Homo sapiens: one gene and its partner. The protein of the gene in region 1 purifies or fractionates together with the protein of each later gene. This does not show direct contact. Each region holds a gene or a part of one and is shown on either strand. Other genes may lie near its edges.

Region 1 (3,500 bases):
TCTTGACCTTCATGGGGGTCTGGGACAATCCGATCTCCAAGCATGGAGGAAAGGCAATGCCTGGACCACTGACTTGCATTGAAATCCTTTCTTGTGGGCTAGGGTTTGATGTCTCTTTTTCATCTTTGGACTGGGGATCTGCATCTTCCAGGTCCATTTAAGCACTGAAACTAGATGCAAATCTCTTTCGAGACCTTACATGTTTTAGATAGTCATGTAATGACTTGGATAGACATTTAAATAACTTGTTCCAAGGTCGGAAGAGCCCAAGAACTCCTCAGAGTTCCTCTTCTTGCTTCTTGAATCACATCCTCTAAAGATGACTCATGTCTCCATAGCAACTGTTAAAGGTGCTGCCTAGACGGGACCCGCTCCCACCTTTACTTACTTTGCTCGAAGGAACCAAAACAATGTCCTTGTGTAAAGGGGCTGTCATATCCAGTTTTCCTTTGAAATCTGGCCCCCAAGATCCTGCTTCTTTCTAACCTGGCAGCTGTCATGTCCCTTCAAGATGATGTGGGAAATGGCCCTTACAACTTGGGAACCACAGAAATTGCTGTATTTCGGGAAGATTCACCTCTAAACTGAAGGCTTCATTCTGATAGTGTCTGCCCTCTCTACCCTGATTTCGCCCTTCTTTGCTTCCATTTTTAGCCCAAGGCTTTGAATTTGATTGAGTAAGACTTAGAGGCAGTATAAAGAACACCATAAACTTAGGCAGAGGTCCCTTAGGGTCTCTAGAGTTGAAAATAATTCTACAGCCTTAGGGGGACCTCTTGGCATTGACTCTAAAGGGAGAGAATAGCCCCTGTGTCCTGGCATTTCAGTCTAGACCTTCAAGGACTGTTCTCTCTTGACAGGCAAGCAAGCAAAGAAAGTTTTGCAATAGATTTCAAGCCAGTTTTTCCATTCAAACCAAGATGCAAATTCATAAAATTACTCTTTTCCTGGAATAGATCCAGGCAGCTGCCTTATTAGAACTTTAGATTCGGATCTATTTTCTTAACACACATACACATACACGCGCATACATACATATACAGAGAGATACGTGGAGAAAGGAAATTTACTCTATCATTGCAATACTTCAAGAAAGAGCTGTATTTTGCCTTTCTGTAATCTCCAAGATAGTGTCTAGGAAAGTAATAGTATAACTATAGGGATACCGAAACAGGAAAAACCAGCCATCACTCTTGAGAAAGTTTGAGTTCGACTCACATGGGAGAATCGAGGTCTGCTACTCGTCTTGCTTTGTGCCCCATCTGTGCCTGGATGCCCTACTACATCTGCTTGACTCGTCTGGGCTGCTAGCCGGGGTGTTGTGGCTGACATCCTTTCCTGGCCTTACACACATAATAGACACATCCCTAACGGCGTGTGCCTGGTCCAGCCACATACAGCCACCACATGTGTCACACACTGTCCCCCTCATCCATGTGGACTTGACTGGCATTTCAGCAGCTCCACTGGGATGCTCTAACCCCAGTGTGTGGAGTTGGGGTCCCTTCATCTAGGTTGACCCAGGTATAGCATTTTTAGCATTGCCTTTCCAGTCTTGATGATTCATTCATTGAACTCATTTATTTCTGGAGCCCCTGGTACACTCCAGGCACTGCGCTAATTGCCAGCAAAGCACAACTGAACTAAATCCACCTTCAAGGAACCTAGCCATAACGAGGGAGGCAGCATGGAAGTACCCTACAGGGGAAAGTCCTGAGTGCTGTGGGAGCATCTCACCGTGGCAGCCAGCCCAGTTTTGGCAATCAGGGGCTTCCTGAAAGAGGTGACATCAAAGCCCGGATGTGTCAGAGGACTGAGGGAGAGTGTTACTAAAGGACTTTCAGGCTGAGAGGATAGCACAGGACTCAGCCCAAAGGAGGGCCAGTGTGGACTGTCCAGGGCCAGCCTGCAGTACAGAGGCTGGAGCTTGGACTTGTAGAGGGAGAGAGAAGAGCAAGGGACGTGGACGGGGCAGTGAGCCAGGCTAGCCACAGAGGGTTCCCGGGGCTTTGCTGGGGATTCAGGGAGCATAAATAAGAGCTTTAGGTGGTGCTGTGTCCTCTGCAGCCCACTGCTGAGGTCCTCCAGACAGGTAAGGTGTGGTCACAATCAGGGCCGGGGTTTCCCTGCTCACTGCGGCAGTGCAGGGGTGCTTGCTGAGATGATTCATCCCAGGGTGTCCTCTGTCCCTTACCCAGCCCCAACTCCTCTTCCTCTGCCAAAAGCTATTTGAATTCAAGGACTTTAACCTGGGCCGGATCTGGTTTGGAGACAAAGGGGACAGCTCTGGGTCAGCATGACCTTCTTTAGAGCCACTAAGGCGAAAAATACCGTTTGGGACCAGGCTGGCCTAGACCCAGGGATGAGAATGCACCCTAAAATAAATATACGGGAAGCAGCAGAGGGCTTCCCTGTCTAGTGTGTGATCCTAACTAAAGGCAGCTCTCTTGGACAGCCTTCCCCTGGATTAGGTCACATACACCTGGTGGCCAAGCCTCTGCTGGGTCCCAAATACACACCCGAGTCCTGCCAAAGAAAGGAGATTTTTAAAAAGCACAGACAAATTGTATGCAAGTGGAAAATACCCATAGGCCTAGACAGCTGTGGAGGGAAGACCTCGTGGGTACCTGGAGGCTGCCAGAGCTGGGAGCTCTGCAGGTATGAGTCAGGGAAGGCTCAGAGACAAGCAGAATCTCTCTATGGAGACAACTTGCAGTGCCTTTTAGGTTTTCCAAATAACCTCGGAGTTCAGAGCATTGGGTTTTTTTCTCCCCTCCCCACCCCCAGAAAAATAATTAGAAAAATGTTTAGGAGAAAGGAAAAGAATTAGATGCATCAGAATACCAGCTATAAGCCAACACTGTTTCCAGAAACTCAAGAAAAAGCTCAAACAGAAGACAGTTCCCCTGAGAGGCTGGAGGCGTTGGTGCTGAAGGCAATTTTCCTAGCTAAGGGGCACTGGGCCTTGCTGCACCTTGGGGCTGACCTTTTTTGCAAAACACCCACCCCTGCCCTCCTGGCATACTCAACAGCAACGCCAGCTTTCTGGACCCTTGGAAAGATGTTAGCTCAAACACCCACTTTTTCCAGATCTTCCTCTTGCTCTTCACTGAGGAATTTGTAATTCTGAGGCTAGCGATGCCCACTCGGATATTCCGCAGGCCCAGGTGTTTAGATTAGAATTTGTCCAGCGGTAATCCTGATGCTGGAAACCAACAAACATTTGGCCTCATATTCACCCATTTAAAAACTAGAGCCCCTGGCAGGTCCCCTTAGGGCCATGTGTTCATGGAATATAAGCCAAGTTTGCCTTAGGCTTGTTCATGGAATATAAGCCAAGTTTACCTCTCCCCATTTTCTGCCCTGGCCCACTTCCCACTCACCTCCACCTCATTGCCAGGAAGGGATCAAAATGCCTCCATGCCAGTTGTTAATGGCTACATATTTGCCCTTCCCAAGGGTATTTGCATTTTATTTAGGAACATGGCCTTATATTCAAG
Region 2 (3,500 bases), on another chromosome or scaffold:
AAGGCTTTTTATGACCCGCCTCTGTAGGATTATCATATGCCCAGTGGTACTGCATGAGAAGAGGTGACAGTAGGCAGGGAACAGACTGCAAAAGGCCTTGATAACCTCTTCCATTCACATTGGTCATCTTTCTGTTTTTTGAACTAACCAAGCTCATTATTCCCTTAGGACCTTTGCCCTAGGTCTTCCCTCTAATGAAAAGCTCTTTCAAGCTTTCTGTGGCTGGCTCCTTGTCATTCAGGGATCAACTTCAATGCATCTCCTCAGGGAGGTTTTCCCCAACCACTCAACTTAAAATAGCCTCACAGTCATCCCTTACTACATCATCCTACTCCTTTTTTCTATAGAGTACTCATCACCATCTACTTATTTTCTTGATTGATTGTTGTCTTACTCCATTAGAATGTAAATGCCACTAGAGTGAGGAACCTTGTCTGCCTTGTTTCTTCTGTGTCCTCAATGCTAGAATATACCAATAATAATGTATTGAAAAAATGAGTTTCAGAGGCTTGGAAGCATGAAACAGGCTGGGTTCAAAACTGCCGGAGTGTGGCTGGGTGTGGTGGCTCACACCTGTAATCCTTGCCTTGGGAGGCCAAAGCAGCAGGAGGATTGCTTGAGGCCAGGAGTTCAAGATCAGCCTGGGCAACATAGTGAGACCCCAACACTTAAAAAAAAATAGCTGGGCATGATGTCATGTGTCTGAGTCCTAGCTATTCGGGACGCTGAGGCAGAAGGACGAGGAGTCTGAGGCCGCACTGAGCCATGATTGTGCCACTGCACTTCAGCCTGGGCAACAGAGCAAGACCCTGTCTCTTAAAAAAAAAAAAAAAAAAGAACTGCTGGAGTGTGAAGTGTTGAGGCTGGGTAGGCAGAGTGGTCATCAAGGGCCAGGCAGAGTTCAAATCAAGAGACCACTCATAAGCAATTCTCAGGAGCATGGCCTCATCCTGTAGTAATGATAGCTATTATCCAGTGGTACTGCACGAGAGGGGGTTACAGTAGGCAGGGGACAGATCATGAAATGCATTGGCAAGTGAGAAACAGTATCTTTTCAATGAGTTTCTGAAATACCTTCTAGGAAAGCTGAATACTGTCTACCTGTGTGTATCAAACAATTTTTAAAATATATTATTAGACACACTTCTTTTCTTTAACTCATTATGCTTCTGTTTCACTCTTGGTTAGTTCTATATGTGGGTTTTATGCTTTAAAATCTGTAGCTCATGGCATGTGTAGAATCTACCTGGACTACATGCAAACTCAGTAAGGCAGAGGTTCAGAGAGCCAGCCTGTTTACACTTTTTACTAGGCCATGCCATATTCAGTTACTGCTCTTAATCCAGACCATCCACCCCATTTGGCTTCTTTTATTTCTAAAGCTGTAAGCAAGGTGTCCTACCATCTCTGTACTTTACCTTTTTTTTTTGAGACAAGAGCCTCACTCTGTCACCCAGGCTCAAGTACAGTGGCACAATCTCGGCTCACTGCAACCTCTGCCTCCCGGGTTCAAGTGATTCTCATGCCTCAGCCTCCTGAGTAAGCTGGGTTTACAGGCGTGTGCCACCATGTCTGGCTAATTTTTGTATTTTTTGTAGAGACAGGGTTCCACCATGTTGGCCAGGCTGGTCTCGAGCTCCTGACCTCAAGTGATCTGCCCACCTCGGCCTCCCGACGGCTGGGATTACAGGTGTGAGCCACCGTGCCTGGCCAGTCTCTGTAGTTTTCACTTGATTGTTCTGTCAGAAACTCCTTTCTGCCCTATGGCTAATGGAAAGTTGCTGAATGTGTTCTGAAAAAAGCAATTTTGCATTCAGCATTTTATAGGTTGGATAAAAGGATGGGATGGAGATGGTGGATAAGGGTTGCTTGCACCTCTGGGAATGGTGGAAAGATACTGAAAAGGCTGTGGACTCAGTGACCTGACAAGCTGTTATCCTGTATTTGTGGTGCCTAACATTGGTCATAGTTTTGTACTTACTCTTGAGGAAATATACATGATCCTGTCTGAATTTGGCTATGTATCTTTTAAACCTAGTGATTCAACTCACAGTAATATTAATATTGTGTCAAGTCTTTTACACTGTGTCATTTGTAGACACCATCTGGGAATTGCCATCTGGGACACGAGATCTTGGCTTTTCTACAGAAGTCGTGTCTTTGGGTTGGCCGCACCATATGTTATCACTGTGTGAGCTGAAAGTAACCATTTGGTATGATGCAGCTAACATTCTGGTTACGTGTACCACCTCCCTTCAGTCACTTTAAAAGGTGATTATCTGTTTCTAACCTGATTCAATAAGTTTTCTTCTCTGGTTTTCCTTTTTAATCCATTCAGCCTCCTTTGGAAAATCTGGCAACTGTGGAAGAGACTGTTGTTCGTGACAAGGCTGTGGAGTCCCTGAGACAGATCTCCCAGGAGCATACTCCTGTTGCTCTGGAAGCTTATTTTGTACCTCTGGTGAAACGCTTAGCAAGTGGGGATTGGTTCACCTCTCGCACATCTGCATGTGGTTTGTTCAGCGTTTGCTATCCCAGGGCATCAAATGCTGTTAAAGCAGAAATCAGACAGTAAGCCATGGTATTTTTTTGCCTTGTTAAAGCAGAAATCAGGTAGTAAGCTATGAGTTATTTGGGATTACTGGGGACTTGTAGCTGACAATTTACATAGTACCTTGTTACCAATGAGTGGCTGATACTAGGATAGTAGGATTTATGACATCTTTCTTTTTTTTTTTTAAGAGATAAGGTCTTGCTCTGTTGTCTAGGCTGGAGTGCGGTGGCACAATCATAGCTCACTGCAACCTTGAACTCTTGTGCTTAAGTGATCCTCCAGCCTCAGCCTCCAAGTAGCTAGGACTACCGACATACACTACTGCGCCTGGCTAATTTTTAAAAAAAATTTCTGGCTGGATGCAGTGGCTCATGCTTGTAATCCCAGCACTTTGAGAGGCTGAGGTGGGAGGATTGCTTGAACTCAGGAGTTCAAGACCAGCTTGAGCAACATAGTGAGACCTTGTCTCTACTAAAAAGAAAAAAATTAGCTGGGCATGGTGGGACCCGCCTGTATTTCTAGCTACTCAGAAGGCTGAGGTGGGAGTTCACTTGAGCCCCCGACAAACAACAACAAAAATATTTTTGGCATATAGATAGGGTCTTGCTATGTTGCCCAGTCTGCTTTCAATTCCTGGCCTCAAGCAGTCCTCCTACCTGGGCCTCCCAAAGTGCTTTGATTACAGGTGTGAGGCACCATGCCTGGCCTATGATGTCATTTTTTATTATCCAGTTGAATATGTTTTATTTTTGTTACTTCTATAAGTAGAAGCTTAGTCACTGATTATTGTAAGATAAAACCTCTAAAAGTCTGTCTGTGTGTATGGGGGGCAGGTTTATTCAGTGTTATTTGATGGGAAATACCTTCATTGTTTTATGTTGCAGGCAATTCCGTTCCTTGTGCTCAGATGACACACCAATGGTACGACGTGCTGCTGCTTCCAAAT

What was found. Proteins that work in one complex are often made in the same cells at the same time.
Region 2: the proteins of C1orf21 (region 1) and PPP2R1B purify together in Homo sapiens (affinity purification with mass spectrometry; one large-scale study listed by BioGRID and IntAct). This does not show direct contact.

What each region holds. Positions count from the first base shown.
Region 1 is NC_000001.11:184,624,529-184,628,028, forward strand, and holds part of C1orf21 (uncharacterized protein C1orf21), read left to right. Parts: 3' UTR 1-3,500.
Region 2 is NC_000011.10:111,759,890-111,763,389, reverse strand, and holds part of PPP2R1B (serine/threonine-protein phosphatase 2A 65 kDa regulatory subunit A beta isoform), read left to right. Parts: intron 1-2,338; coding exon 2,339-2,571; intron 2,572-3,438; coding exon 3,439-3,500. UniProt on the Homo sapiens protein: The PR65 subunit of protein phosphatase 2A serves as a scaffolding molecule to coordinate the assembly of the catalytic subunit and a variable regulatory B subunit.